Linked DNA regions of Homo sapiens. The protein of the gene in region 6 purifies or fractionates together with the protein of the main gene of each other region. This does not show direct contact. Each region holds a gene or a part of one and is shown on either strand. Other genes may lie near its edges. The genes, in order: UTP15, PWP2, DDX27, AGPAT5, IDH2, TECTB and WDR3.

Region 1 (4,319 bases), on a different chromosome or scaffold from region 6:
TCACGCCTGTAATCCTAGCACTTTGGGAGGCTGAGGCAGGCGGATAGCTTGAGTCCAGGAGTTTGAGACCAGCCTGGGCAACATAGCAAGACTCTAAGACTCCATCTTTAATTAAAAAAAGAAAAAAGTTGATAATGTCAGATGTGTCTACTTTTCTTGCTGTTATTCTGACAAATGGAAAAAATATCATGTTGAACAGGGAGAATAGAAAGCTGTGTGCTGATCTCCACTGTGTGTCACTAGCTAATTGTGACCTCGGGCAATCCCTTAAGGTCTCTAGACCTTGAAAATGAGAGGGTTGGACTAGATCAGTGATTTCAACTGTGATCCCTCTTGTGAGGTGCCACATAGGAGTGGAGAGGTGGGAACTGTGAGTTGGGTTCCAACTCCTGTTCCCCAGTCAAGATTTCAGTCTCCCCTTCCATCCCTTTTTCTGTCTTTCCATATTAGACTTTTTTGCTTGATATTTTGCTGCAGATCTACATTATTCACTTCCACTGCTATATAGAATTTCTTTTAAAAAATGATTTTATTATAATTTTCTTAAAATGGACTCTTTCAGTTATACATTTATTTTGCTGGAATTTATGTACACTTCACAAATATTATTTAATGGTCATAACAGTTCTGTGAGGTAGGAACTGTTATTACCAATGACCCAGGAAGTGGTGCATCCAGGATTTTACCAGGCAGCCTGGCCTGGACTCCCTCACTCAGCCTCCATGCTTTGTGGAGTGTCCAGAGAAGAATGCTTTTCAGATCTTTAATATGTTGAATCTGTGGGCAGAATATCCAACTAACGATGATTTCTTTTTATAGGAGGTCGTTATGTTAAAGTCTGGGACATGTTAAAAGGAGGACAATTGCTAGTATCTTTGAAAAATCATCACAAAACCGTGACATGTTTATGTCTAAGCAGCTCTGGACAGAGGTTACTCTCTGGCTCACTGGATAGGTTGGCATTTTAATTTTTTTGTATATTATTATTAGTGTACACCTGTTTACTGCTTGAGGAAATGAGTTATTTCAGCAATATTTGTGATAAGTATACAGATAATGATTTCCAGGAGAAAAAAACCTGTTGAGTTGAAAATAGTTTTGACCTTTTGTTTACATATAGCTACTTCTTTTCTTTTCTTTTTTTTTGAGACAGAGTCTCACTCTGTCACCTAGGCTGGAGTGCAGTGGTGCAATCTCGGCTCGCTGCAACCTCCGCCTCCCAGGTTCAAGTGGTTCTCCTGCCTCAGCCTCCTGAGTAGCTGGGATAACAGGCACGCGCCACAATGCCCGGCTAAGTTTTTTATTTTTAGTAGAGACGGAGTTTCACCATGTTGGTCAGGCAGGTCTTGAACTCCTGACCTCGTGATCCGCCCACCTCAGCCTCCCAAAGTGCTGGGATTACAGGCGTGAGCCACCACACCCGGCCACCCATAGCTACTTATTTTCTCCTTTGACACAATTTGTTTTAACTTGTATACTTAAACAACATTATTGAACCATTTGAATGATAATCTTTCAAATAATGTTATTCTATAAACCATCTTTTAAAATCATTATTGTACATTCATATATTTTGAAGTTTTTTTTTTTTTTTTTGAGACAGAGTCTTGTTCTGTTGCCCAGGCTGGTGTGCAGTGGCACAATCTGGGCTTACTGCAACCTCTGTCTCCCAGGTTCAAGCGATTCTCGTGACCCAGCCTCCCAAGTAGCTGGGATTACAGGTGTGCAGCACCATGCCTGGCTAATTTTTGTATTTTTAGTAGAGACGGGGTTTCGCCATATTGCCCAGACTGGTCTCGAACTTCTGGCCTCGTGTGGTCTGCCCACCACGCCCTCCCAAAGTGCTGGGATTACAGGTGTGAGCCACTGTGCCTGGCCTGAAAAGTTTTTTAAAAATTAGATAAATTAATTTTTTTTTTTTTTTTGAGATGACATCTCGCTCTGTTGCCCAGGCTGGAGTGCAGTGGTGGGATCTCAGCTCACTGCAACCTCTGCTTCCCGGGTTCAAGCGATTCTGCCTCAGCTTCCTGAGTGGCTGGGATTATAGGCGCTTGCCACCTTGCCCGGCTAATTTTTGTATTTTTAGTAGAGACAGAGTTTCGCCGTGATGGCCAGGCTGGTCTGGAACTTCTGACTTCAGGTGATCCACTCACCTTGGCCTCCCAAAGTGCTGGGATTACAGGCATGAGCCACCACGCCTGACCTAAAAGTTAGATAGCACATTTTATTTAGCCTAATATCTAATGTAAAAATAAAATATATATTACATATAAAATATAATTTCAGTATGTAATCTATGTCAAAATTATTAAGATACTAGAAATAAATTAAGCATCTAAACATGTGCACTATGATACAATAATCATATTTTAGGTTGGTACAGTGGCTTACACCTGTAATCCCAGTGCTTTGGGAGGCTGAGGTGGGAGGATCACTTGAGGCCAGGAGTTTGAGACCAGCCTAGGGAATATAGTGAGACCCCATCTCTACAAAAAATTAAAAAAATTAGCTGGCCACAGTGGTACACACCTTTAATCATAGCTACTAGGGAGGCTGAGGCAGGAGAAGCACTTAAGCCGGAGTTTGAGGTTGCAGTGAGCTGTGATAGTACCACTGTACTCTATCCTGGGTTACAGTGATACCCTGTCTCTAAAAAAAAAAAGATAATATTTTATAAAAATTACTGTCTCAGTTTTTAAATTAAAATTAGATAAAATAAAAAATTTAGTTTCTCATTTTCACTAGCCACATTTCAAGTGGTCAGTAGCCATGTGCAGCTAGAAGTATGGCACAGTTCTAGAATTTACATGATTTATTATTAATTTTTTTTTTTTTTGAGACAGGGTTTTGCTCTGTCGCCCAGGCTGGAGGGCAGTGGCATGATCTTGGCTGACTGCAACCTCCACCTCCTGGCTTCGAGCGATCCCCTCGCCTCAGCTTCCTCAGTAGCTGGGACCACCGGCACGCGCCACTGTACCTGACTCATTTTTGTATTTTTGTTGAGATGGGGTTTTGCCATGTTGCCGAGGCTGGTCTCAAACTCCTGAGTTCAACAGATCCTCCCACCTCAGCCTCCCAAAGTGCTGGATTACTGGCGTGAGCCACCGTGCCCGGCTTACATGATCTATTTTTTATTATTTTATTTCCATATTTTCATTTTTTTCTGCTCTTATGAAAAACTTTAGTTTTCAGCATGTTAATTAAAAAGTATACAGTCATCTCTTGGTAACTGAGGAGAATTGGTTGTGGATGCCCAAGTCCCTTATTTAAAATGGCATATTTGCATATAACCTACACACATCCACTGTATACTTTAAATCATGGCTTGCTTATTTGTAATACCTAATACAATGCAAATGCTATGTAAATAGTTGTTACACTGTATTTTAAAATTCTGTATTGTTTATATATTTATGGATATTTTCAATCCATGGTTGGTTGAATCTGCAGATGTGGAACCTGCCATAAGAAGGATTGACTGTACATATTTTAAAAGCTAGAAAATATTTTTAATACAAAGGAATTTTTTATGTAAATACATGGCAAGTTTACACATGTTACTGAAATCATGTTACTCGGCAATTTGGGACTTGATTCTTAGGTATGTTCCTAAAAGCTAAGTGTAAATTGGCTCTATTTGTGGTGGTTTCAACCAAGAGTGATTTTTGTTCCTCAAGGAACGTTTGACAATATCTTGAGAAAGTATTGTTTTTTATCACAACTCATGGTACTTACCATATAGGGGATAGAGGCCAGGAAGGCTGCTAAACATCCTACAATGCACAGAACAACCCCCACAAAAAAGAATTCTGTGCCCCAAAATGACAGTAATTCTGAGGTTGAGAATCCCTGATCTTTGGCTTCATGTGTACTTTCTTTCTTTCTTTTTTTTTTTTTAATTTATTTTTTTAGAGACAGGGTTTCTTCAAGTTGCCCAGGCTGGTCTTGAACTCCTGGGCTCAAACAATCTGCTGTCCTTGGCCTCCCAGAGTGCTGGGATTACAGGTGTGAGCCATCACACTTGGCTTTGTGATGTGCTTTCATTGATAATTTTTTCTTTTTTTTTTTTTAAGATGGAGTTTCACTCTTGTTGCCCAGGCTGGAGTGCAATGGCGCGGTCTCGGCTCACCGCACCTTCTGCCTCCTGGGTTCATGTGATTCTCCTGCTTCAGCTCCCAAGTAGCCGAGATTACAGGCATGTGCCACCATGCCCGGCTGATTTTGTATTTTTAGTAGAGACAGGGTTTCTCCATGTTGGTCAGGCTGCTCTTTAACTCCCGACCTCAGGTGATCTGCCCACCTCGGCCTCCAAAAGTGCT
Region 2 (4,319 bases), on a different chromosome or scaffold from region 6:
GTCTGTTGAGCGGGGTGGTAAGGGCTGGTTTCTGGTTTCTGCAGGACTAAGCAGACGTGACTGAGAGTAGGCTGCTTAGGGTGGAGGCCGACTGGTCGCCGTTTTGTGCTGACCTCAGCAGGGAACACTGTTCCTTGAGCCACTTGTTCCTTTTGTGAAAAAGACATTGATTCTCAGGAAGCGGAAGCATCTAAGGGTGGTGCTGGCTCAGAGCGGAACCAGGTGATGGCACCATTGGACATTGTGGGTTTTAAAAGTCTCGCGTGAGTTGAGGCAGCGAGCCTTGGCGAAAGTTGCTGAGGCTGGTGTTTGCTTCCTGGAGGGCTGGTATAGGATCTCCTCTATTTCCTAAGGTTAGTTTTTATTTTATTTATTTTTATTTTTATTTTTATTTTTGATTTTTGACACGGTCTCGCTCTTGTCACCCAGGCTAGAGTACAGGAGTGCAATCATGGCTCACTGCAGCCTCCAACCCCTGGGCTCAAGTGATCCTCCCACATCAGCCTCCTGAGTAGCTGGGACTACAGGCATGTGCCACCGCACCCTGTTAATTTTATTTTTTGTAGAAACAGGGTCTTGGTATATTGTCCAAGCTTGTCTTGAACTCCTGGACTCAAGCAATCTTCCCAACTCAGCCTCCCAAAGTGCTGAGATAACAGGCGGGAGCCACCATGCAGGCCTAAAGTTGGTTTTTAGGAGCCATACGCTGAGGTTTCCGTGGTGGCCACCGTAAGTCCATGTCTCCTCTCCACCCAGGGCCTTCACCGCCCTGTGCTACTCTGCAGACGGCCACAGCATCCTGGCGGGAGGCATGTCCAAGTTCGTGTGCATCTACCACGTCCGTGAGCAGATTCTCATGAAGAGGTTCGAGATCTCTTGCAACCTGTCTTTGGACGCCATGGAGGTGAGCCGCCAGCGCGGGGCCGGATGGATGTTGCTTCCAATGCAGGTGGAATGCGTCGGGCTCCTGCGTTCTGCACTCCTGGCTCCATGGGGCCTTGGGCACAGTTGTGGTGCTTGTCCTGTATCTAAGTGCACGGGCCCCTCACCTGCCCCAGCAGAGTCCGGCCGTGAAGCCAGCACCTGCCTCAGCTGTGTGTGGAGCCACGGTCCCCAACCCTTTTGGCATTTGGGACCGGTTTCGTGGAAGGCAATTTTTCCACAGACAGGGTTGGGGGGATTGATTTTGGGATGAAACTGTTTCACCTCAGATCAAGATCACCAGGCATTAGATTCTCAGAAGGAGGGTGCAACCTAGATCCCTCACGTGTCGTTCACAATAGGGTTCGCACTCCTGTGAGAATCTAATGCTGCCACTGATCTGTCAGGAGGCGGAGCTCAGGTGGTGATGCGAGCAATGGGGAGCGGCTGTAAATTCAGATGAAGCTTCACTCATTCACCTGCCCACCACTCACCTCCTGCCGTGCAGCCTGTTTCCTAACAGACCATGGGCCAGTACCAGGGGTTGGGAACCACTGCTGTGGATGACCCTGCCGAGGCTGGTTGCTAGGAGGCTGGAGCTGTGAGGGGCAGTGCCCAGCACACGCTGGCTCAGGAGACACGGACATCTGTCAGGGAAGGAGTGAACGAAGAGGGTGCTGGTAGGCCCTGCCCGATGGCTTCCTGCCCGGGGTCCTGTGTACAAGGCTCTGCCTTCACTGTCCCCACTGGTGCCTGCCCTTCCCCCTCAGCACAGCCCTCGGCTCAGGTCCCACTCACATGCTGGCTCCTGCAGGACCTCAGAATGAGAGTGAGGAAGCCCTGGTAGCCTCTAAGCAGGGGTGTGGCTGCTGGGTTCACCTGTCCACGCCCCATCGGGGCAGAAGCCCACTGTCCCCTAAATGTTTCTGGGGGAAAGTGTCCTTGGCATTTTCACAAGGGAGTAGACGGCCATCCTCGCTGTGAGCCCCAGCCTTTGTGATGGTGGCAGCAATGCCAGCATGTAGACCTCAGTCCATCCCCCTCCGCAGCCTCCGCACCTGCCCTGCTCCACAGCTTCCACACCCACCCTGTCTGCAGCTAGCTCTGCAGGAAGAGTCCCTGGGGCACTGCAGGGCTCTCTCCCCGTCCTTGTTCTAGACAGGGCTGAGGCTTGTCTGGTGTTGGGGTCAAAGAGCAAGGGTAGGAGACGAGGGCCAGGCGGCCAGGCCATCAGAAGCAAGGCGTCCACTGCTTTTGCTGTTCTAGGAATTTTTGAACCGAAGAAAAATGACAGAGTTTGGCAACCTGGCACTAATTGATCAGGATGCTGGGCAGGAGGATGGAGTCGCGATACCACTGCCAGGCGTCAGGAAAGGTGAGCAGAGGTTCCTCCCGCATCTGCCCACCACTCACCGGTCCTGGGTGACCACGCATTCATGCCCCTGGTTGGGGCTGCAGTGTGTGGAAATAACAGTTACTACATGGTGACATTTGCTGGACACTGGGGGTGTCAAAGGCCCAGTGGGTTGGTGCTGGTGCCGTCAGCCCCTGGGCAGGAGAAGCTGCCCATGTGTTGCTACACGTGGCCTCCCTGCCCTGGCGGGACCCGTCCATTTGCTCTTGGGACTGGGTGCCCCGTCTGCTGCACAGCACACGGAGCATTCTGGCGTGAGGCCATGTGCGCCGCACAGAGAGCCAGGTGCTCTAGAAGATCTGGGTCCCAGGTAGACCATCCTGATGGGACACTCGCCAGCCAGAAACCCTGAGTGCTTCCATATGCAGGCCCAGGGTACCGTGTTGAGCACAGCAGACCCACTCCTGGGCTGGGCTGGGGCCCTTTTCTGGGTTGGACACACAGTCTGCTGGCCGGGCTGGCTTTTTTGAGCATCTGCCCCATGGGCTGGGCCATCTGTTTGGCAGCTCACCCGGAACAGCCTCCGCGGCCCCAGCACGGGCCCACCTGCCGCAGCTGCAGCGAGGGAAGGGCTGCTTCTGCCTCCGCTTTGTGCAGGACCCAATGAGTAGAGGCTGCTGCTCTTGATGGGGCTCCCACAGCACCCCCCAGCCAGCCGGGAGACCGCAGGATGACTTGCTTCGTGGGGAGAGCAGCCTGGATATGCTGTCCAGTGATCATTAACGGTTCTTTTTTCCCCAGGTGACATGAGTTCTCGGCACTTCAAACCTGAGATCAGGGTGACCTCACTCCGCTTCTCTCCCACTGGTGAGCACTGAGCCATGGGCTTTTGGTGCCGGTGGGCACTGGGGCATCTGTGCCATAGCAAGGCTGGCCACCATGGAGCTGTCTGCAGGCTCTGGGCTGTGCCCTGTGCCCCTGGGTAAGAACATGGCCCTGCAAACCCTGCAGGCCACAAGATGGCTGTTGTCCCTGAGGATGGATGGCTGTCACGGTGCCAACCTCAGATGCACTGAGCTTTGAAACATGGCAGGCCTGGTATGCCCTTGCTCTAGCAGCTCCCCGAGTGCCCTGGACGTGCTGCCTGGGGGCGGCTCTGCCATCACGGAGAGCCCGTCTCCTGCGCACTGCCCCCATCCTCTCGCAGTGGGGAGGAGGGTCTGTGCCACAGGCCTGTGGAGCCTGGCGGTGCACATGGTCCCCACACAGAGGAGCCAGGAGCAGGGCTATTGGCAAGCGTGCTCCAGCCTAGACTGAGTGTCAGAGCCAGGGGCAGAGAGGCCCATGTGAGCCAGGGGTCTGTGCCCTCGGGCCCAAGGGCCAAATCTGGCTGGCCACCTGCTTTGGTCACTGATGTTTTACTGGGACATTTTACTGGGCGTTTTTTTGTTGGCGGATCCTTCTGGCTGTCTCTAGTGATCCGTGCAGCACTGAGTAGGTGCAGCAGAGACCACAGGGCCTGCGGAGCTGAAGACGCCTGAGCTAGACAGAAGACTTGGCTGGCTCCCGGCGTCAAGAGAGGAGGACGCATGCGTGTACATATTTGCTTATATGTGCATCCCTGGGAGAGTAACTTCTGGGATGATCCATTCATTCCTTCCCAGGGGAGTAGTGGGGTGGGGGCTAGAGGCAGACGTCCCGGTTCCTCCTGATTTTTGCACTTTGTCCCAGGGGAATGTACTTAATACTGTTTCTTTAAAAAAAAAAAAAAAGAAAAAAAATGTTGGGAGGAATGAGCTTAAATTTTTAGGAAAGCACTGCTTAATTTCCCAGGGCGCTGCTGGGCGGCCACCACCACGGAGGGACTCCTCATCTACTCCCTGGACACCCGCGTGCTCTTTGACCCGTTTGAGCTGGACACCAGCGTCACCCCCGGGAGGGTGCGCGAGGCACTGCGCCAGCAGGACTTCACCAGGGCCATCCTCATGGCCCTCCGGCTCAACGAGAGCAAACTGGTGCAGGAGGCCCTGGAGGCGGTGCCCAG
Region 3 (4,319 bases), on a different chromosome or scaffold from region 6:
CTGGGACTACAGGCGTGAGCCACCGCGCCCGGCCGAGAACTCTCTTAAGCAATGAGTTCCATCGTGTCCCTCCTCTTCTTCTCTGAGTCCTTCAGTACTTCCCAGTCTCACTCTTCTTAGAAGCCTGAGTCCTTATATTGACCTACAAGGCTCTGCCCCTTCTGGCCCTCTCTGACGACACCTCCTGGCACTCGTTCTGCTCTGGCCACACTGGCCTCCTTGCTGGCCCTCAAATAGGTTAGGCCTCCTCTTCCTCAGGGCCCTTGCACTTTCTGTTCCCTCTGCCTGGAAAACTCTTCCAGAAATCTTTTGGGGTGCTCTCTAGCTTCCTTCAGGGTTCAACTCAGTATCCCTTGCTCAGTGAGACCTTCCCTGGCAGCCCTACCGTGAATAGCACTCCCCCTGCTGCCCGTCTGGCCGCTGCATTGTTTTCCGCAGCATCTCTCCATATGACATGTGTTTGTTTTTTGGTCTGTTTCTACCAGACTGTAAGATTCCTGAGGGCAGGGTTTTTATTTCTTTTATTTACTGCTGTGTCCTCAGTGTCTAGAGCACCACCTCACACATAGTAGGCGTTCAGTGAATGTTTGTGGAACGAATGATTGGTGGGGATTGGTGTGGTCCCCACTTGTCTGGAAACCTGCCCTGTTTGTGTTGTGCTGAGACTTCCCCCGCTCAACCCTGTCTGACCCAGTTCTTTTTTCCTCAGGCCATTACAGCCATGGGCTTCAAGCAGCCCACCCCGATCCAGAAGGCGTGCATACCTGTGGGTCTATTGGGGAAGGACATCTGTGCCTGTGCAGCCACTGGGACAGGTGAAAAGGATAGGGACCCAGGGTGGGCAGAAGGGTGTTACGGCCAGGGCTGGGCTCTAGGTTGACTTACCAAAGGCTGGTTTGCTAAATAAATATTCTTGGTTTTTTGAACTATTTCATTTTTATTTTTTATTTTGTAGAGATAGGGGTCTCACTTTGTTGTCCAGGCTGGTCTTGAATTCCTAGGTTCAGGTTCAAGCGATCGATTTTCCCATCTTGGCCTCCCAAAGTTCTGGGATTACAGGCATGAGCCACTGTGCCTGGCCATAAAATTTTTGTAACACAAAAAAGATATACTGGTGCAATTGAGAGAGTAAAGGACTTTTTTTTTTTTTTTTTTTTTTTGAGACGGAGTCTCGCTCTGTCGCCCAGGCTGGAGTGCAGTGGCGGGATCTCGGCTCACTGCAAGCTCCGCCTCCCGGGTTCACGCCATTCTCCTGCCTCAGCCTCCCAAGTAGCTGGGACTACAGGCGCCCGCCACTACGCCCGGCTAATTTTTTGTATTTTTAGTAGAGACGGGGTTTCACCGTTTTAGCCGGGATGGTCTTGATCTCCTGACCTCGTGATCCGCCCGCCTTGGCCTCCCAAAGTGCTGGGATTACAGGCGTGAGCCACCGCGCCCGGCCGAGAGTAAAGGACTTTTAAATTTTTAACCACTTTATTTTGAAGTATTTGTAGATCAGTGGCAAGTTGCAAAAATAGTGCATAGGGTCTCTCGAATCCTTCATCAATGGTGACATCCCACATAACTGTAGGACAAAATCAAAACCAGGAAATTGGCACTGATACAACAGTGTTTCCTAGACTGCAGAGCTTACTCAGTTTACTGAAGGATTAATTTTTTGTTTTGAGATGGAGTCTCACTCTGTCACCCAGGCTGGAGTGCGGTGGCGCAATCTCGGCTCACTGCAACCTCTGCCTCCTGTGTTCAGGTGATTCTCCTGCCTCAGCCTCCCCAGTAGCTGGGTTTACAGGTGCCCGCCACCACACCCGGCTGATTTTTGTATTTTTAGTAGAGAGAGGGTTTCACCATGTTGGCCAGGCTGGTCTCGAATTCCTGACCTCAAGTGATACACCTGCCTCAGCCTCTCAAGAGTGCTGGGATTTACAGGTGTGAGCCACCGTGCCTGGCATACTGAAGGATTAATTTTGTAAGATAAACAGTGCATGAGAGGATGTCCGGTCTAGTAGTGGGCCACAAGTTTCAAAGGGTCTGATGAAGGTCATTTTCATTTAATCCTCTTGGGGTATCCCTGATCTCTGTGACCATGGCCTCCTGGCCCTGCCATATCAGAGGAGGAAATTTTTTTTTTTTTTTTTTTTGAGACAGAGTCTCGCTCTGTTGCCCAGGCTGGAGTGCAGTGGCGCAATCTTGGCTCACTGCAACCTCCGCCTCCCGGGTTCAAGCGATTCTCCTGCCTCAGCCTCCTGAGTAGCTGGGATTACAGATACACGCCACCATGCCCGGCTAATTTTTGTATTTTTAGTAGAGACAGGGTTTTACTATCTTGGCCAGGCTGGTCTTGAACCCCTGACCTCATGATCCACCTGCCTCAGCCTCCCAAAGTGCTGGGATTACAGGCATGAGCCACTGTGCCTGGCTGTATTTTTTCTTTTTTTTTTTGAGACAGAGTTTTGCTGTTGTCACCCAGGCTAGAGTGCAGTGGTGCGTTCTCAGCTCACTGCAACCTCTGCCTTCAAGTGAATCTCCTTCCTCAGCCTCCTGAGTAGCTGGGATTACAGGTGCCCACCACCAAGCCTGGCTAATTTTTATATATTTAGTAGAGACAGGATTTCACCATATTGGCCAGGCTGGTCTCGAACTCCTGACCTCAGGTGATTCGCCTGCCTTGGCCTCACAAAGTGCTGGGATTACAGGCTCCCGCCACCATGCCCAGCTAAGTTTTTTGTATTTTTAGTAGAATTGGGGCTTCACTATGTTGGCCAGGCTGGTCTTGAACTCCTGACCTCAGGTGATCCGCCTGCCTCGGCGTCCCAAAGTGCTGGGATTACATATGTGAGCCTGACCATGTGATTTGAAAGCAGAAAAAATATTCTATGAAAAATAAGTTCCTTTATTTTCCCCAACCAGACGTAGTTTTTCTGTGCTCTGGTGAAAACCTAACCCTGGAGGGAGCTAAACTTCTTCTCATTGCTTCCTTGCTGTCCCTCCCTCCAGGTAAAACTGCCGCCTTTGCCCTGCCTGTTTTGGAGCGTCTGATTTATAAACCCCGCCAGGCTCCAGTCACCCGCGTGCTGGTGCTAGTGCCCACCCGAGAGCTGGGCATCCAGGTGCACTCTGTCACCAGACAGCTGGCCCAGTTCTGCAACATCACCACCTGCCTGGCTGTGGGTGAGTTTCTGGCCAAGGGCTGCCAGCCCCTGAGAGACTGTGGTGGGGTGGAGGATGGATGTGCCCCGCCATCTGTTGGTGTTGGTGACAGGTGCCAGGAGAGGCCTTTGTGTTGATTGAATCCACTTAAAAACTGGAAGACTTTTTTTTTTTTTTTTTTTTTTGAGACGGAGGAGTCTCGCTCTGTCGCCCAGGCTGGAGTGCAGTGGCGCAATCTTGGCTCACTGCAAGCTCCGCCTCCCGGGTTCACGCCATTCTCCTGCCTCAGCCTCCCCAGTAGCTGGGACTACCGCCACCACGCCTGGCTAATTTTTTGTATTTTTAGTAGAGACAGGTTTTCACCGTGTTAGCCAGGATAGTCTCGATCTCCTGACCTCGTGATCCGCCTGCCTTGGCCTCCCAAAGTGCTGGAATTACAGGCATGAGCCACCGCACCCAGCCGACATGTTTTCATAGTGCTTTAGGTGGGTGGGATTTGATTGAGACTTAACCAACCTTCACAAATGAAACCTGAAAACTATGAACATTTTTTTCGTGGTACTGAACAAATTTGGGGTATAATTTCTGCTCTGTGAGAATAATGAATCAAATATTACTTTGGGCAGCGTTTTTCCAATGAAGTTATATGATAGTGTTATCTAGCCTGCATTTTGCCCTCCTTGTGCTATTGGAAGTCAGAAGTGATCTTTGTCTCCCTGTAACAGACACCTCATCACTTTCCTCAGCTGCTTCTCTTAGTCCTTGAATGTTTCAGGCATTCTCTTTTTTTTTTTTTTTTGAGAGGAAGTCTCACTCTGTTGCCCAGGTGGGAATGCAATGGCATGATCTTGGCTCACTGCAACCTCCACCTCCTGGGTTCAAGTGATTCTCCCACTGCTTTCCAAGTAGCTGGAATTATAGGTGTGCACCACCATGCACAGCTAATTTATGTATTTTTAATAGAGATGGGGTTTCGCCATGTTGGGTAGGCTGGTCTCGAATTCCTGACCTGAGGTGATCCACCTGCCTTGGCCTCCCAAAGTGCTGGGATTGATTACAGGCATGAGCCACCTCGCCCAGCCCATGCATTCTCTTCTGAAGTGCTTTTGTGTCATCATCATTGTTGATTTTTGCACTTAGCACAATTTTAATGACATGATCTGTCTTTCCCA
Region 4 (4,319 bases), on a different chromosome or scaffold from region 6:
AAGACAAAAAGCATCCTCATAAAATGCCTTAAAACCACCTGTTGAAATATTACATATACAATTCATGTATACTAATCATAGAGCATATTAAAGATATTTTAGAAGACTAGAAACTTCTATTAAACCAAGTTTCTGGATGTTTCCGTATTCATCCTTATTTTCCAGGGACCTGCATAACTTTTCCAGCGTGTAATAGCTACCTGATTGATATTTTTTGAATTGAAATACTGAAGTGACTAAAATCTAAACTTTTTCCATTCTGGCCATAGGATGCTTATAGAATTTTATGAGTCACCAGATCCAGAAAGAAGAAAAAGATTTCCTGGGAAAAGTGTTAATTCCAAATTAAGTATCAAGAAGACTTTACCATCAATGTTGATCTTAAGTGGTTTGACTGCAGGCATGCTTATGACCGATGCTGGAAGGAAGCTGTATGTGAACACCTGGATATATGGAACCCTACTTGGCTGCCTGTGGGTTACTATTAAAGCATAGACAAGTAGCTGTCTCCAGACAGTGGGATGTGCTACATTGTCTATTTTTGGCGGCTGCACATGACATCAAATTGTTTCCTGAATTTATTAAGGAGTGTAAATAAAGCCTTGTTGATTGAAGATTGGATAATAGAATTTGTGACGAAAGCTGATATGCAATGGTCTTGGGCAAACATACCTGGTTGTACAACTTTAGCATCGGGGCTGCTGGAAGGGTAAAAGCTAAATGGAGTTTCTCCTGCTCTGTCCATTTCCTATGAACTAATGACAACTTGAGAAGGCTGGGAGGATTGTGTATTTTGCAAGTCAGATGGCTGCATTTTTGAGCATTAATTTGCAGCGTATTTCACTTTTTCTGTTATTTTCAATTTATTACAACTTGACAGCTCCAAGCTCTTATTACTAAAGTATTTAGTATCTTGCAGCTAGTTAATATTTCATCTTTTGCTTATTTCTACAAGTCAGTGAAATAAATTGTATTTAGGAAGTGTCAGGATGTTCAAAGGAAAGGGTAAAAAGTGTTCATGGGGAAAAAGCTCTGTTTAGCACATGATTTTATTGTATTGCGTTATTAGCTGATTTTACTCATTTTATATTTGCAAAATAAATTTCTAATATTTATTGAAATTGCTTAATTTGCACACCCTGTACACACAGAAAATGGTATAAAATATGAGAACGAAGTTTAAAATTGTGACTCTGATTCATTATAGCAGAACTTTAAATTTCCCAGCTTTTTGAAGATTTAAGCTACACTATTAGTACTTCCCTTTGTCTGTGCCATAAGTGCTTGAAAACGTTAAGGTTTTCTGTTTTGTTTTGTTTTTTTAATATCAAAAGAGTCGGTGTGAACCTTGGTTGGACCCCAAGTTCACAAGATTTTTAAGGTGATGAGAGCCTGCAGACATTCTGCCTAGATTTACTAGCGTGTGCCTTTTGCCTGCTTCTCTTTGATTTCACAGAATATTCATTCAGAAGTCGCGTTTCTGTAGTGTGGTGGATTCCCACTGGGCTCTGGTCCTTCCCTTGGATCCCGTCAGTGGTGCTGCTCAGCGGCTTGCACGCAGACTTGCTAGGAAGAAATGCAGAGCCAGCCTGTGCTGCCCACTTTCAGAGTTGAACTCTTTAAGCCCTTGTGAGTGGGCTTCACCAGCTACTGCAGAGGCATTTTGCATTTGTCTGTGTCAAGAAGTTCACCTTCTCAAGCCAGTGAAATACAGACTTAATTTGTCATGACTGAACGAATTTGTTTATTTCCCATTAGGTTTAGTGGAGCTACACATTAATATGTATCGCCTTAGAGCAAGAGCTGTGTTCCAGGAACCAGATCACGATTTTTAGCCATGGAACAATATATCCCATGGGAGAAGACCTTTCAGTGTGAACTGTTCTATTTTTGTGTTATAATTTAAACTTCGATTTCCTCATAGTCCTTTAAGTTGACATTTCTGCTTACTGCTACTGGATTTTTGCTGCAGAAATATATCAGTGGCCCACATTAAACATACCAGTTGGATCATGATAAGCAAAATGAAAGAAATAATGATTAAGGGAAAATTAAGTGACTGTGTTACACTGCTTCTCCCATGCCAGAGAATAAACTCTTTCAAGCATCATCTTTGAAGAGTCGTGTGGTGTGAATTGGTTTGTGTACATTAGAATGTATGCACACATCCATGGACACTCAGGATATAGTTGGCCTAATAATCGGGGCATGGGTAAAACTTATGAAAATTTCCTCATGCTGAATTGTAATTTTCTCTTACCTGTAAAGTAAAATTTAGATCAATTCCATGTCTTTGTTAAGTACAGGGATTTAATATATTTTGAATATAATGGGTATGTTCTAAATTTGAACTTTGAGAGGCAATACTGTTGGAATTATGTGGATTCTAACTCATTTTAACAAGGTAGCCTGACCTGCATAAGATCACTTGAATGTTAGGTTTCATAGAACTATACTAATCTTCTCACAAAAGGTCTATAAAATACAGTCGTTGAAAAAAATTTTGTATCAAAATGTTTGGAAAATTAGAAGCTTCTCCTTAACCTGTATTGATACTGACTTGAATTATTTTCTAAAATTAAGAGCCGTATACCTACCTGTAAGTCTTTTCACATATCATTTAAACTTTTGTTTGTATTATTACTGATTTACAGCTTAGTTATTAATTTTTCTTTATAAGAATGCCGTCGATGTGCATGCTTTTATGTTTTTCAGAAAAGGGTGTGTTTGGATGAAAGTAAAAAAAAAAATAAAATCTTTCACTGTCTCTAATGGCTGTGCTGTTTAACATTTTTTGACCCTAAAATTCACCAACAGTCTCCCAGTACATAAAATAGGCTTAATGACTGGCCCTGCATTCTTCACAATATTTTTCCCTAAGCTTTGAGCAAAGTTTTAAAAAAATACACTAAAATAATCAAAACTGTTAAGCAGTATATTAGTTTGGTTATATAAATTCATCTGCAATTTATAAGATGCATGGCCGATGTTAATTTGCTTGGCAATTCTGTAATCATTAAGTGATCTCAGTGAAACATGTCAAATGCCTTAAATTAACTAAGTTGGTGAATAAAAGTGCCGATCTGGCTAACTCTTACACCATACATACTGATAGTTTTTCATATGTTTCATTTCCATGTGATTTTTAAAATTTAGAGTGGCAACAATTTTGCTTAATATGGGTTACATAAGCTTTATTTTTTCCTTTGTTCATAATTATATTCTTTGAATAGGTCTGTGTCAATCAAGTGATCTAACTAGACTGATCATAGATAGAAGGAAATAAGGCCAAGTTCAAGACCAGCCTGGGCAACATATCGAGAACCTGTCTACAAAAAAATTAAAAAAAATTAGCCAGGCATGGTGGCGTACACTGAGTAGTTTGTCCCAGCTACTCGGGAGGGTGAGGTGGGAGGATCGCTTCAGCCCAGGAGGTTGAGATTGCAGTGAGCCATGGACATACCACTGCACTACAGCCTAGGTAACAGCACGAGACCCCAACTCTTAGAAAATGAAAAGGAAATATAGAAATATAAAATTTGCTTATTATAGACACACAGTAACTCCCAGATATGTACCACAAAAAATGTGAAAAGAGAGAGAAATGTCTACCAAAGCAGTATTTTGTGTGTATAATTGCAAGCGCATAGTAAAATAATTTTAACCTTAATTTGTTTTTAGTAGTGTTTAGATTGAAGATTGAGTGAAATATTTTCTTGGCAGATATTCCGTATCTGGTGGAAAGCTACAATGCAATGTCGTTGTAGTTTTGCATGGCTTGCTTTATAAACAAGATTTTTTCTCCCTCCTTTTGGGCCAGTTTTCATTACGAGTAACTCACACTTTTTGATTAAAGAACTTGAAATTACGTTATCACTTAGTATAATTGACATTATATAGAGACTATGTAACATGCAATCATTAGAATCAAAATTAGTACTTTGGTCAAAATATTTACAACATTCACATACTTGTCAAATATTCATGTAATTAACTGAATTTAAAACCTTCAACTATTATGAAGTGCTCGTCTGTACAATCGCTAATTTACTCAGTTTAGAGTAGCTACAACTCTTCGATACTATCATCAATATTTGACATCTTTTCCAATTTGTGTATGAAAAGTAAATCTATTCCTGTAGCAACTGGGGAGTCATATATGAGGTCAAAGACATATACCTTGTTATTATAATATGTATACTATAATAATAGCTGGTTATCCTGAGCAGGGGAAAAGGTTATTTTTAGGAAAACCACTTCAAATAGAAAGCTGAAGTACTTCTAATATACTGAGGGAAGTATAATATGTGGAACAAACT
Region 5 (4,319 bases), on a different chromosome or scaffold from region 6:
AGGTGAGTGAGCACTACTACCACCTGAGCTCATGCCTGGGAACTGCGCACACGAGGGATCTAGGTTGCATACTCCTTATGAGAATCTAATGCCTGATGATCTGTCACTGTCTTCCAGCACCTCCAGATGGGACTGTCTAGTTGCAGGAAAGCAAGCTCAGGACCCCCCGATTGTACATTATGGTGAGCTATATAATTTTTTCATTATATATTACAATGTAATAATAATAGAAATAAAGTGCACAATAAATGTAATGCACTTGACTCATCCCAAAACCATCCCCGCTGCCCACCACCCTGCCACCCGTGGAAAAATTGTCTTCCATGAAACTGGCCCCTGGTGCCAAAAACTTTGGGAACTGCTGGTTTAGAGCACCTGGATCCATCCATCCTTACTTACTTCCTTTCCTTTCTTTCCTTCCTTTCCTTTCTTTCCTTCCTTCCTTCCTTTCGTTCCTTCCTCCCTTTCTCTCTCTCTTTCTTGGCAGGGTCCTGTTCCATTGGTCAGGCTGGAATGCACTGATGCCATCATAGCTTACTGCAGCATTGACTTCCTGGCTTCAAGTGATCCTCTGACCTCAGCCTCCCAAGTAGCTGGGACTACAGGCGCATGCCACCACACCCAGCTATTTTTAATTTTTTTTTTTTCTGAGACGAAGTTTCGCTATTGTCCCCCAGGGTGGGAGTGCAGTGGCATGATCTCAGCCCACTGCAACCTCCGCCTCCCGAGTTCAAGTGATTCTCGGGCCTCAGCCTCCCAAGTAGCGGGGATTTCAGGTGTGCACCACAACACCTGGCTAATTTTTTGTATTTTTAGTAGAGACAGGGTTTCACCATGTTGGCCAGGCTGGTCTCAAACTCCTGACCTCAAGTGATCCACCTGCCTTGACCCCCGCAAAGTGCTGGGATTACAGGCGTGAGCCACCGTGCCAGCCTAATTTTAAAATTTTTTTGTAGAGATGGAGTCTTGCCCTGTTGCCCAGGCTGGCTGGACTCCCCACCCCACCCCCACTTTAATCTGGCTAGGTAGAACTACCCAAAAACATGCCCAGCCCACCAGTGGCCAAGAGGGTGGGGGCCAGTCTGGCCTGTCAGACCCTCTCCCCCTGGAATATGAAGGCAGAGGAGATCAACACAAAGAACACTGGCTAGCTGCGGCTGCCTCATCCAGCACCAAATCAGTAAGAGGTTGTCCAGGGGCTCCTGCCATCCAGTTCCTAAGGAGGGCCTGGGTCCTCTTTTATGTATTTACTTATTGTTTAGAGTCAGGGTCTCTTTATCTCTCTCTGTTGCCCAAGCCAGGCTCAGACTCCGGGGCTCAAGCAATCCTTGCACCTCAGCCTCCTTAGTAGCTGGGGCTACAGGCCCATGCCAAGATATTACTTTTGTCCAAGACTTAGTTCTTTATAGTTTTCCCTGCAATTCTATGAGCTACGCTGTGTAGCTCATAATAAAATCCTCTCCAAGTTAACCAGTCACTAACTTTGTCTGTTGCGTGCAACCCAAGAGCCCTCAACTAACTTGTGGTGATAAAGGAAATAGTATAGATAGGTATTGAGTGCCTACTATGTGCCTTACAGTGTACCAATGCTGTACAATGTGATTCCATTTAATCCCAAAAACAACCCCAAGGAGGTATCATTACCTCCATTTTATTTAATTAATTAATTTATTTATTTATTTATTTATTTTTTGAGACAGAGTCTTTGGTCTGTCACCCAGGCTGGAATGCAATGGCGTGATCTCGGCTCACTGCAACCTCTGCCTCCCGGGTTCAAGCGATTCTGCTGTCTCAGCTTCCTGAGTAGCTGGGATTACAGGCACACGCCACCAGGCCCGGCTAATTTTTGTATTTTTAGTAGAGACGGGGTTTTGCCATGTTGGCCAGGCTGGTCTCGAACTCCTAGCCTCAGGTGATCCACCCACTTTGGCCTCCCAAAGTGCTGGGATTACAGGCGTGAGCCACCACGCCTGGCCATTATCTCCATTTTAAGTGTGGGAAACTGAGGCTCAGAGAGGTTAACAGCTTACTGCCCAAGGTTACAGAGCTTGAAAACAGCAGAGTCACGAGGACTCTGACCCTATTCAACAGGAAGGACAGGCTTACAGCACCTGCGAATGGAACTCAGAACCCTTGATCCCAGCCGACGCAGGTGGGTCAGTCCTACCAGAGAAGCATCAAAGGACTCAATGAGGGGCTGATCAGAGGTCCAGGGAGACCAGTGGAGGGTAGGGGGCAGGGGACGCTACTGAAGGAGAGTCTGACTCGCAGGAATACCCAACAGTCTGGGAAGTGAATTTCAAAGAAAACTCAGGAACTGGCCACCTAACAATGAATCAGTACAGCTGCCTTGGACAAGGCTTGTTGAACCTCAGCCTGCAGCAGATAGGGGCACCGGGGCACCAGCCTGCTCCTCTGCCCACAGCCTGGGAAGAAGCAGCAAATGCAGAGCAGGGAACAAGATCTAATAAAACTTCAGTCACAGGGAAATCTCACCAGCTCAGCTGAGAGCTGTGCCCTTTCCTCAAAGCAGCACTCCTCAGCCTCACTTACAGCCCAATTACTCTTGTGTTACACACAGTCCTTAGAGAGGTGGTGATGTGTCTTCAGCTCCACTCTAGATTAGACACAGCAAATCAGGTGAAGGGAAGAGAATGATTATTTGAAAACACTGGGTTGGGGCTGGGTGTAATGGCTCATGCCTGTAATCCTAGCACTTTGGGAGGCTGAGGCAGGTGGATCACTCAAGGTAAGGAGTTCAAGACCAGCCTGGCCAACATGGTGAAACCCCATCTCTACTAAAAATAGAAAAATTAGGCATGGTGGCACGTGCCTATAATCCCAGCTACCGAGGAGGCTGAGGCAGGAGAATCGCTTGAACCCGGGAGGTGGAGGTTGCAGTAAGCCAAGATCACGGCACTGCACTCCAGCCTGGGCAACAGAACGAGACTCCATCTCAAAAAAACAAACAAACAAACAAAAAAAACTGGGTGGGAAGAACTGACAAGGGACAGAATACCTGTGAAAAGCAGGCCTAGAAACCACCTCGGCACATTTAAAACAAAAGTGATTAAAGCCTAACAGACCTCAAACAACTGACTTTCCAAAGATATGCAAAGAGTTTGTTTTTTTTTTTTAATCTAAAAATAATCTTAGAGATCATTTAGGGGGAATAATGAGACTCAGAGAGTGTGGTCTGCATCAGAGGCAAGATAGAGCCCAGGTCCCTGACCCAAATGCAGCCTCTGGAAGACCCGTGGGTCAGATGTAGAGAAGCAGAACACAAACACAGCCTTGGACTATTCCATTCCCTAGAGAACAAAAGGTGGCTGGCTGCTGGCTCTACTGCCTTTCCCAAGACGCGATGGGGATTTTGAACCCAATCTACAATATTCCTTCACTTTTTTCTGAAGCTTGAGTGGAAAGAGCTGCAGAACCTGCGGAAAGTCTGTTGAGCTGTTGCAGAGCTAGTTTAGTTCTGGGGAGCATCTCCTATGAGTTAATTTGAGGACAGCTAATCAAATTTGTTAAAAAAAAAAAAAAATGAACTATCATAATCAGGAGCCCTAAGGAGAGACTCACTTGGGGCCAGTTCTTCAGGTTTCAGCCTCAGCCTGGGCTCCACGGTTGGGCTTCAGGCAGGCATGGCTAGGAGAGTTCAAGGTCAAGATCAAAGACCTGATGTGTCAAACCCTCAGAGACCACAGGACCTGATTATTTACTCACCGGCAGGTGCTAACTAAGCACTTATCCAGTACCCCACTGGGATACTGAAATGCCTAAAACACAACAGTGCCTGCCCGGAGGCAGTGAATGTGGAAGGGGAAACCTACAGGTAACAGAGAGAGAGCAAGCAGGGCTGTCACCAAAGTCAGGAGTGCCCAGGCCTCCCTGGAAGCAAACATCCCAGGGGAACTGAGAACAGCAACATGAGCCAAGGCCAGCAGAGACTTGTTCTGCTTGTTCCAGGTACTGGTTTTTTAAAAAAATCTTAATTGGTGACCAAGTTTTAAAAATCAGTAAATCTCAACAATAAAACAAATAACTCAACGTTAAAATGGACAGAAGACTGGCTGGGCACCGTGGCTCATGCCTGTAATCCCAGCACTTTGGAAGGCTGAAGAGGGCAGATCACTTGAGGTCAGGAGTTCGAGACCAGCCTGGCCACAATGGTGAAACTCTGTGTCTACTAAAAATAGAAAAAAAATTAGCCTGGTGTGGTGACACACACCTGTAGTCCCAGCTATTTGGGAGGCTGAGGCAGGAGAATTGCTTGAACCCAGGAGGTGGAGGTTGCAGTGAGCAGAGATCATGCCACT
Region 6 (3,389 bases):
TGAACAAGACAGACAAGGCCCCTTCCCTTGCCAATATGTGTAGAGTATTTGGGGTTCAATGGGGGACGTGATTTAGAGAGCAGCCAGGGAAGCCCCTTAGAGGAAGAAACATTTCAGCTAAGACCCAAGATCTCACCTGAATGATAAGAAGGAAGCAACTACATGAGGAGATGGGGTAAGACAGTTCACTTATTAATAATCTCACAGACAGATTTTGCTCTCATCATTACAGGAGAATCATGTAAATCAACTTTTAAAATTCCAATCCTAGATTCTCATCGTTTTTAAGTTCTACACTGAAAGCCCTAGAGTACCATGCACCATCACTGATTTCTATTTGTCAGAGGTCCACAACCTAGGTTTATCTGTCAGGTTCTTTGTACTGATAAATGTGAGCTACAGAATCCCCAAGGGATGAACAAAATCGACTTTGTCTAAAATGTGTGGAATTTTATGAAGACCCCTGAGTTAACTCTTCTGTTGAGTTGGCTTTACCCTTGTAGAACTGTCTCTGAGTGCCATCTCCCTCCCCTTCTGGTCCACAGATGTTCTCCACCACCTCATCATGATGTTGGGGATTTGTGCCGTGTTATAGGAGTTAGCCAGGCAGCTGCCGCTCCTCCACCCACAATAGTCCTCAGCGAATGACAAACACATTTATTGTGCTGCCAAAAAGAACAAACAGAAGACCACATTGTTGGGGGGCAGAGAATAGCACTTTGCCAAATATGCACTCCAATAATTTCTGTGAATTTGGTGATGCCTTTTTCTTTCTAAGAAAAACTTAGGCTACTTCCCGTGGCCCTTAGATCTCACAGTCCTTCTACAGCTGGGGGAGGAGCCTCCTTTCTCCATACTCAAGTCAGGGCTGCAGTAAATTCCTTTGAAAGCTATTTTAACTTTAAAAGGTTAGCAGACCCAACCAAGTACTGCTGAGCATTTTGAAGAGAATGTAGGGTGCAACTACAAAGTCAACACTAAATGCACAACGCACATTAATAGCTGACTTTGCCAAAAAGGAGCTTTGTCATTGAGGCAGTGTCATTCTACTTAAGGACCAGAGCTGAGCCCCCACGCAGGGAGTTCCAATCTTTCAACTGATGACATGGGAGATGATGTGGGATTCAGAGTGGAATACAATAGTTTTGCTCAAACCTAATGATATAAAGGAAATAGATTCTTGAAAGCCCCTAGTACTGACCTAATTTGTTTTTATTATACCATTTGTTAAATATATAAACATGATATAGGTAGAAACTCCTTGTTTTTATAGCAGATGTATACTTCTAAAGTCAAAAGAAAATTACAAATTAAATAGGAATATTTACAAAAAGAATAATCACAAGAAGAATACAACTCACATTAATTTAACCTAATAACACGGCATTGCCCCAGTGAAACTGCTGCTGGAAACATGACTATAAAGTGACTCCAATGACACAAGTGCTGTGAGTTTGGTGACCCAATCCTACAGATAAATGCCTTGTGACACTCAATGCTATTTTTTCTCTATTTGCTCTACTAAGAAGTTTTCATTTATAAGAAATGGTCTGATCTCATTTAGCTTTTACTTAAACATCGAAGCTTACATCTGTTTTTGTCTCATTCACTTACAATCATTAGAATGAAGCTAACACAAAATCAGAAACACAAATGCAAATGCAGCCAATGAAAGCATGCAGTAGCACATCTTGGTAACTGGCCACCCCAGTGATCCAGAATATGCCCATATAAATGATTTACATTGTCAACAAAATACAAACTGAATGAACCAATTCTGGTAGAGAATTGGCTGGATTGTGATAGGAAAAGGCAGAGTTCTAAGTCCTTAGTTATGTAAAGACTTAATTAGTAGGCTTATAATTTGAAAACAACACATGGGTTTGTCTCTCTGTATTTAAGGTATTTGAGAAGTTTTGCAATTTGCAGTTTGATGATTCTTTTACAACTTGTGTTAGTGAACTCAGAGATTAAACTAGTTATGAAATCTCCGGATACATGAAGTGTATGTTTGTTTAGTAATAGGCTAAAGTAAAATGACTCAATTTGGTCTAGACTTGGTCTCTAAGCTGGAGTTCCAACGAGTTTAGGATCTCTTCTTTCTGTAAATTCAGAGTTTTTATAGTCAGGAAAAACAGAAGACATATTTTATTGGTTCTAGTAGAAAACTCTTAAATAGCATACTCATAGCCATGTTCAAATCCTTTGCTGTCAGAATAAACCAATGTTGTATTAGTTTTGCTGTATTTCATCATTGTGTTTTATGATCTTGTATCTCTACCTGGCGCTATGGAATAAATAAAATGCCTTAAAATAAATAACCTATGACTACAGTTTACAGTGTTAATATATCATGTTGACAGCTAATTCCCCAATTCTCCCAGGGGTTTCTACAACTAGAGCTTCGTAGACTCGCATATATGCCACAGACTTTTTTTTTTTTTTTTTTTTTTTGAGATGGAGTCTCGCTCTGTCACCACCCAGGCTGGAGTGCAGTGGCGTGATCTCAGCTCACTGCAAGCTCTGCCTCCCAGGTTCACACCATTCTCCTGTCTCAGCCTCCCAAGTAGCTGGGACTACAGGTGCCCGCCACCACACCCAGCTAATTTTTTGTATTTTTAGTAGAGATGGGGTTTCACCATGTTAGCCAGGATGGTCTCAATCTCCTGATCTCGTGATCTACCTGCCTCAGCCTCCCAAAGTGCTGGAATTACAGGCATGAGCCACTGCACCCGGCTTGCCACAGACTTCTAATTATTCTATCCTACCTTTACATTTAAAAAACTCCCAGTATTGGGTTTCTGATGCAAGGAGGTAAAGCCAATCTGTATGATTAACATTTTGGGGAAAAGGTCTTTTGGGTCATCCCTGCCTATAGAGCCCGAATGTCTCTCACCAGTGACTGGATGTGTTTTGACTTGACATTAACTAACAACCTCATGATGTTTGATTACCCTTCTTGTCTCATAACTTCTTCTTTGAGAAAATAAGACAAGGTACTCTCAAAACAATCTCTTGTAAATTCTCAGTAGTTCTAAACACAATTAGAAACATTAAGAAAAAGAAGAAAACTAATTCTCCCCCAGGTATCCTTAGCTGACATAGAACAAATACTGAATATAGATTTAGAAAAGTGTTCTTATCAAAATTCTTAGTTGTGATCCATAAAGACAGTCTCGCTCTCTCTTTCTCCATGTGCATATGTGTGTGTATGTATGCACGTGTGTGTGTATATATATGAGGGTGTGCATACATATATATGTGCATGTGTGCACACGTGGATGTCTGCATATGCACACGTGTGTTTTTGTGTGTATGTGTGTCTAGATGCCAAATGCTTATGATGTTCAATAAGAAAGGCAGAACTAAATCTATATTACATGAACATA
Region 7 (4,319 bases), on a different chromosome or scaffold from region 6:
CTGGTTCTTCTTTTTAGCATATTGGAAATGGACTGGAGCTAAGTAATCTGGGAGGATGTTAGTTTATTACATATTTTGTTTACTGAAGTTTTACTTTATTTTTTAAAAATTATGAAGAAGAAAATTAAAATCATGACCCTGAGATAACTACCATTAACATTTTGGTGATCATCCTTTCATGTGTCTTTTTATGGGCGCATATGTAATTGTGTTTTAATTAATGATAAAATATATTAAGGGTAATAATTAAATATATTAAGTACCTAATATCATGCTTGGCAGACAGAAGCATTCAGTAAAGACAAACTGATCAAGTCCTTATTCCTAGGTGCTAGTCAGATTGGGAGACAACCATGTGGAAATAAGCAGATATGGATTTGGATTTAGTTTCTGCCCTTTAGAAATAGGTAATTTGGGCCGGGCGCAGTGGCTCACACCTGTAATCCCAGCACTTTGGGAGGCCGAGGCAGGCGGATCACAAGGTCAGGAGATCGAGACCATCCTGGCTAACACGGTGAAACCCTGTCTCTACTAAAAATACAAAAAATTAGGTGGGTGTGGTGGCGGGCGCCTGTAGTCCCAGCTACTCGGGAGGCTGAGGCAGGAGAATGGCGTGAACCCGGGAGGTGGAGCTTGCAGTGAGCCGAGATAGTACCACTGCACTCCAGCCTGGGTGACAGAGCAAGACTCCATCTCAAAAAAAAAAAAAAAAAAAAATGAGTAATTTGGAGCAAGTCACATAACTGCTCATAGTGTGTTCCTTTATATTATGGGATGACGACACTTGCTTTTTGACAGCAGCTTTCGTACCAGATGGACTGGTACCAGCCTCTGGCACTTACTAGCTATGTGACCTTAACCCTGTTAGCCTTGGTGTTCTCGTGGAAAATGACGTTACTGACCCATTTCACAGAGATGAAGTATACAAAACTCTTAGCAGAGAAACTAGCCTGCAGCGAATAGCTAATCGATAATAGAGCTGGTAGCAGACATAGCAGTAGTGATTGTACCAGTAGTGAGAATAAAATGGAACAAGGTCTATGGAGTGTTTTGAAAAGTGCTTTGCAAGTATTTGTCATTATTATTCCCATAAAACAAAGCCATATGTACATGAGTTTTATTACAAAATGTATGGATCACAATGGATATTTCTTGCTTCAACAAAAAAATGTAGGCTGGAGAGATTTTAGGAACAATGCCAGGAAACAGTATTCACATCTCAAAACTTTCCTTCCTTTTTCACTCTTTCAACAAATGTCCATCTCTGATTTGCCGTCGGGAAAGTAGTTTTTTAATTGCTTAAGACTACCCATGTGGCTAAAATGCAATTGTCGGCTTACTGGCTGTGCTAGGCAATTAATGTACATTATCTCATTTAATCCTGACAACATCTTTGAAACATTGGTGATATAAATTTCATTTTACAGATGAAAAACTAGGTTCATGGGGATGAATTTACCAATGGGCACAAAGCAGACCTGGTACTCAAGTCTTTTAGCTTATGCTGTCTGTACCACCTTGTGCAGAAGCTCATCGTAAAACAGGCTTTGCCTCTGTGTGTGTTACATGCTGACACCATGACTATGGCATATACAGACCTCTAAATAGGAATTTTAGAGTGATTGCTTTCTATGCCATTATGATTTTTTTTTAAATTCACTGCCTTCCTTAGTGCTGTAGGTAGATCCCATTTCTTATTGTCAATGTATTGCAGAGGAGGAAACCAAAAGCAGATGGAAAAGAGGTGGTTGCTTAAGCCAATAACTATAGAGGATCATCCGCTTAAAGGATTGGCTAAACTTTAAAGGCTTTTAGGTTTGCATTTGCTATTTTGTTTATTCTGATTTGCCTATGGTCATGATATTTTCCTTGTGAAGTTGTGTAACCAATGAAAGTAATGCATCCAGTACTGCATGGTGGTATTATTCCATACTTCTACACTATGGTAGCCCTGCCAAGGTTAACCCAGCACATCAGTAGGGGATTTAATAGTATTTAATCAGGTAGGAAATACAGAACATGGAATGTGGGATCCATTTCCTAAGCAATGGATCACATTTTTGCAGCTTGGTTATGAAGTCTTTTCTAAATTGTGCAGTCATGAATCATGGAGGTTGTACGTATGTTCATTGGAGCTGTGCTCATTTTGTGTCTTCCCAGACAGGGAAGCTGCAGCTTTATGACTTGGCTTCAGGGAATCTGCTGGAGACAATAGATGCACATGATGGAGCTTTGTGGTCCATGTCCCTCTCTCCAGATCAGGTAACTAAACCAGATTTTAAAGCCCTGGAGTTCAGCCCTGTGGCTACCCTGATTTCTCTCAGGGTTTCTTTAAAGAAAGCCTGAGGTTTTTTTTTTTTTTTGGTCTAATCTTTAGTGTTTGTATATGATGCCTTCTTATAAATGACCACCTGTCATTATGAAATGAAATCTTGTTTGGCTACTTTTGCTTATCAGCAGCGTGACATCAAATTGCTTACCATCATGATTTTTTTGCCAATGTTTTGTAATACTTCTTAAGGGGGAATATTCTCTTGGGCAACATGATGCAGAGAACTGAATAGACTTTGCTGCTCCCCTTTTTTCCTCAAACAAACATCTATGACTGTATAAGCTAAGTAGTTTTAGCAAGTATGTCAGCCCTTACAAGTCAATAAATATGTGCTCACCTTCAGAGCAGTTCCTGGCAAAAGTATGCTTATTCTAATAATGGTGCTGTTGCTTAGAAAATCTTGAGATTTTTTTTTTTGACAACACCTTAAGAAATTTTGGCCCATTTATTTAAATATTCTCAATGATAGACAATTTTCATCCGTTGAAAGTAGAACTTAGTTTTGGAAAAAATCACTGAAGTTTAGAGTGTTTAATACCACTTGGGGTCCAAACGAAACAGCTGTGAGTCTAAAATAGTAATAAATCTTGCATTTGTAGAGTGTTCTATCTTTTCCATAAACTGTGTGGTCTTTTTTTCAACAAAACTAGGGATTTACGGAAAGGTTGTTTCCTGTGTTATAAATCTATGAGGGACAGACACTTGAGATCCAGTGTTCTATGTACTTTACACTAACACTGCCATGTAATGAGACTAATTTTCTTGATAACGGAAAACAGCTTCAAAACTATTTTAAGTAGGGACATTGCAGGACTAAATTTATATCCTTCTGAGGTGAATACTTTAAACAAATCTAGATTATCCATTCTATGTATATTTTTCAAACTGGTTTACTGAGAGTTTTTGTTTCTTCTTGATGCTAGATAATAGTATAACTAGAACTTTTCATTAGTTATTATTTCTGCCTATGTTAGTCGATGGTAGGAATTTTCACATAAGGTTTGTGGCAGCAGACCCAAAAGATCAGTGAAAGGGGCTAGGGAGAACCACGTTTTTCTTAATTTTTATCCCATGACGTTAAATAAAAATACTTTCTTAGACTTTTAAAATGTATCTTCATAGCAAAGTTTTTATGCTAAAATAGTTTTTAATTGAAATTTCATTTGATTTTCAGCGTGGCTTTGTGACAGGTGGTGCAGATAAATCTGTCAAATTCTGGGATTTTGAGTTAGTGAAAGATGAAAATAGTACCCAAAAGAGGTGAGTAGACATTTTTTGTGTCCATTTTTTGGAGTGAAAATGGGGAGCTATGGAATGGCCTTTTGACGTCTTATATCATTTGTTGTGCTCTAAAGAGTTAGGATTTGTCTGAATTTGTATACTCATTTATTTTTTCTTGATGTTTTTTGTGGTGCTAGACTTTCTGTGAAGCAAACCCGAACTTTGCAACTAGATGAAGATGTTCTGTGTGTCAGTTACTCTCCCAATCAAAAGCTATTGGCTGTGTCTTTGCTGGACTGTACTGTGAAAATTTTCTACGTTGATACTTTAAAGGTACAGTGGTTATGCCTGCGGATATTTTCCCTTTCTGACTGACTGACCTTAAGAATTTGGGTTGAGGCTATAAAGAAGTGGCCTTGACTGTGCCCAGCGATAGTACATTTCTAAAAATGTGTGTGTGAATCAAAGCAATGTAACTATGCTAGGGAAGCTAGCATTTTAAAATAATTCTATGGTTCATGAATTTTGTTTAAAGCAAGTTATATTTCATATGTTCAAAAAATCTTGTGGACAGAAAATTCTGTCATACTAAGTAGTTATAAGAGCATTGCTAGGTGTCCTGGGCAGTGATTTCACACTTGGCTATATATTAGGATCATCTAGGTTGCTTTTAAAAATATAGATTACTGAGCCCTATACCCAGAGAGTTGATAGGACCAGGTTGGGCCTGGGAAATTTTTTTGTGAAACAAATGCCCTGGAATCTT

The links.
Region 1: the proteins of TECTB (region 6) and UTP15 purify together in Homo sapiens (affinity purification with mass spectrometry; one large-scale study listed by BioGRID and IntAct). This does not show direct contact.
Region 2: the proteins of TECTB (region 6) and PWP2 purify together in Homo sapiens (affinity purification with mass spectrometry; one large-scale study listed by BioGRID and IntAct). This does not show direct contact.
Region 3: the proteins of TECTB (region 6) and DDX27 purify together in Homo sapiens (affinity purification with mass spectrometry; one large-scale study listed by BioGRID and IntAct). This does not show direct contact.
Region 4: the proteins of TECTB (region 6) and AGPAT5 purify together in Homo sapiens (affinity purification with mass spectrometry; one large-scale study listed by BioGRID and IntAct). This does not show direct contact.
Region 5: the proteins of TECTB (region 6) and IDH2 purify together in Homo sapiens (affinity purification with mass spectrometry; one large-scale study listed by BioGRID and IntAct). This does not show direct contact.
Region 7: the proteins of TECTB (region 6) and WDR3 purify together in Homo sapiens (affinity purification with mass spectrometry; one large-scale study listed by BioGRID and IntAct). This does not show direct contact.

Annotation. Positions count from the first base shown.
Region 1 is NC_000005.10:73,571,670-73,575,988, forward strand, and holds part of UTP15 (U3 small nucleolar RNA-associated protein 15 homolog), read left to right. Parts: intron 1-819; coding exon 820-955; intron 956-4,319. UniProt on the Homo sapiens protein: Ribosome biogenesis factor. Involved in nucleolar processing of pre-18S ribosomal RNA. Required for optimal pre-ribosomal RNA transcription by RNA polymerase I.
Region 2 is NC_000021.9:44,123,824-44,128,142, forward strand, and holds part of PWP2 (periodic tryptophan protein 2 homolog), read left to right. Parts: intron 1-756; coding exon 757-904; intron 905-2,187; coding exon 2,188-2,296; intron 2,297-3,076; coding exon 3,077-3,142; intron 3,143-4,108; coding exon 4,109-4,319. UniProt on the Homo sapiens protein: Part of the small subunit (SSU) processome, first precursor of the small eukaryotic ribosomal subunit.
Region 3 is NC_000020.11:49,225,721-49,230,039, forward strand, and holds part of DDX27 (probable ATP-dependent RNA helicase DDX27), read left to right. Parts: intron 1-709; coding exon 710-815; intron 816-2,994; coding exon 2,995-3,168; intron 3,169-4,319. UniProt on the Homo sapiens protein: Probable ATP-dependent RNA helicase. Component of the nucleolar ribosomal RNA (rRNA) processing machinery that regulates 3' end formation of ribosomal 47S rRNA.
Region 4 is NC_000008.11:6,756,894-6,761,212, forward strand, and holds part of AGPAT5 (1-acyl-sn-glycerol-3-phosphate acyltransferase epsilon), read left to right. Parts: intron 1-269; coding exon 270-495; 3' UTR 496-4,319. UniProt on the Homo sapiens protein: Converts 1-acyl-sn-glycerol-3-phosphate (lysophosphatidic acid or LPA) into 1,2-diacyl-sn-glycerol-3-phosphate (phosphatidic acid or PA) by incorporating an acyl moiety at the sn-2 position of the glycerol backbone.
Region 5 is NC_000015.10:90,091,944-90,096,262, forward strand, and holds part of IDH2 (isocitrate dehydrogenase [NADP], mitochondrial isoform 1 precursor), read right to left. Parts: intron 1-4,319. UniProt on the Homo sapiens protein: Plays a role in intermediary metabolism and energy production. It may tightly associate or interact with the pyruvate dehydrogenase complex.
Region 6 is NC_000010.11:112,302,718-112,306,106, forward strand, and holds the end of TECTB (beta-tectorin precursor), read left to right. Parts: intron 1-545; coding exon 546-595; 3' UTR 596-2,321; downstream 2,322-3,389. UniProt on the Homo sapiens protein: One of the major non-collagenous components of the tectorial membrane. The tectorial membrane is an extracellular matrix of the inner ear that covers the neuroepithelium of the cochlea and contacts the stereocilia bundles of specialized sensory hair cells.
Region 7 is NC_000001.11:117,946,245-117,950,563, forward strand, and holds part of WDR3 (WD repeat-containing protein 3), read left to right. Parts: intron 1-2,160; coding exon 2,161-2,262; intron 2,263-3,506; coding exon 3,507-3,592; intron 3,593-3,750; coding exon 3,751-3,886; intron 3,887-4,319. UniProt on the Homo sapiens protein: Part of the small subunit (SSU) processome, first precursor of the small eukaryotic ribosomal subunit.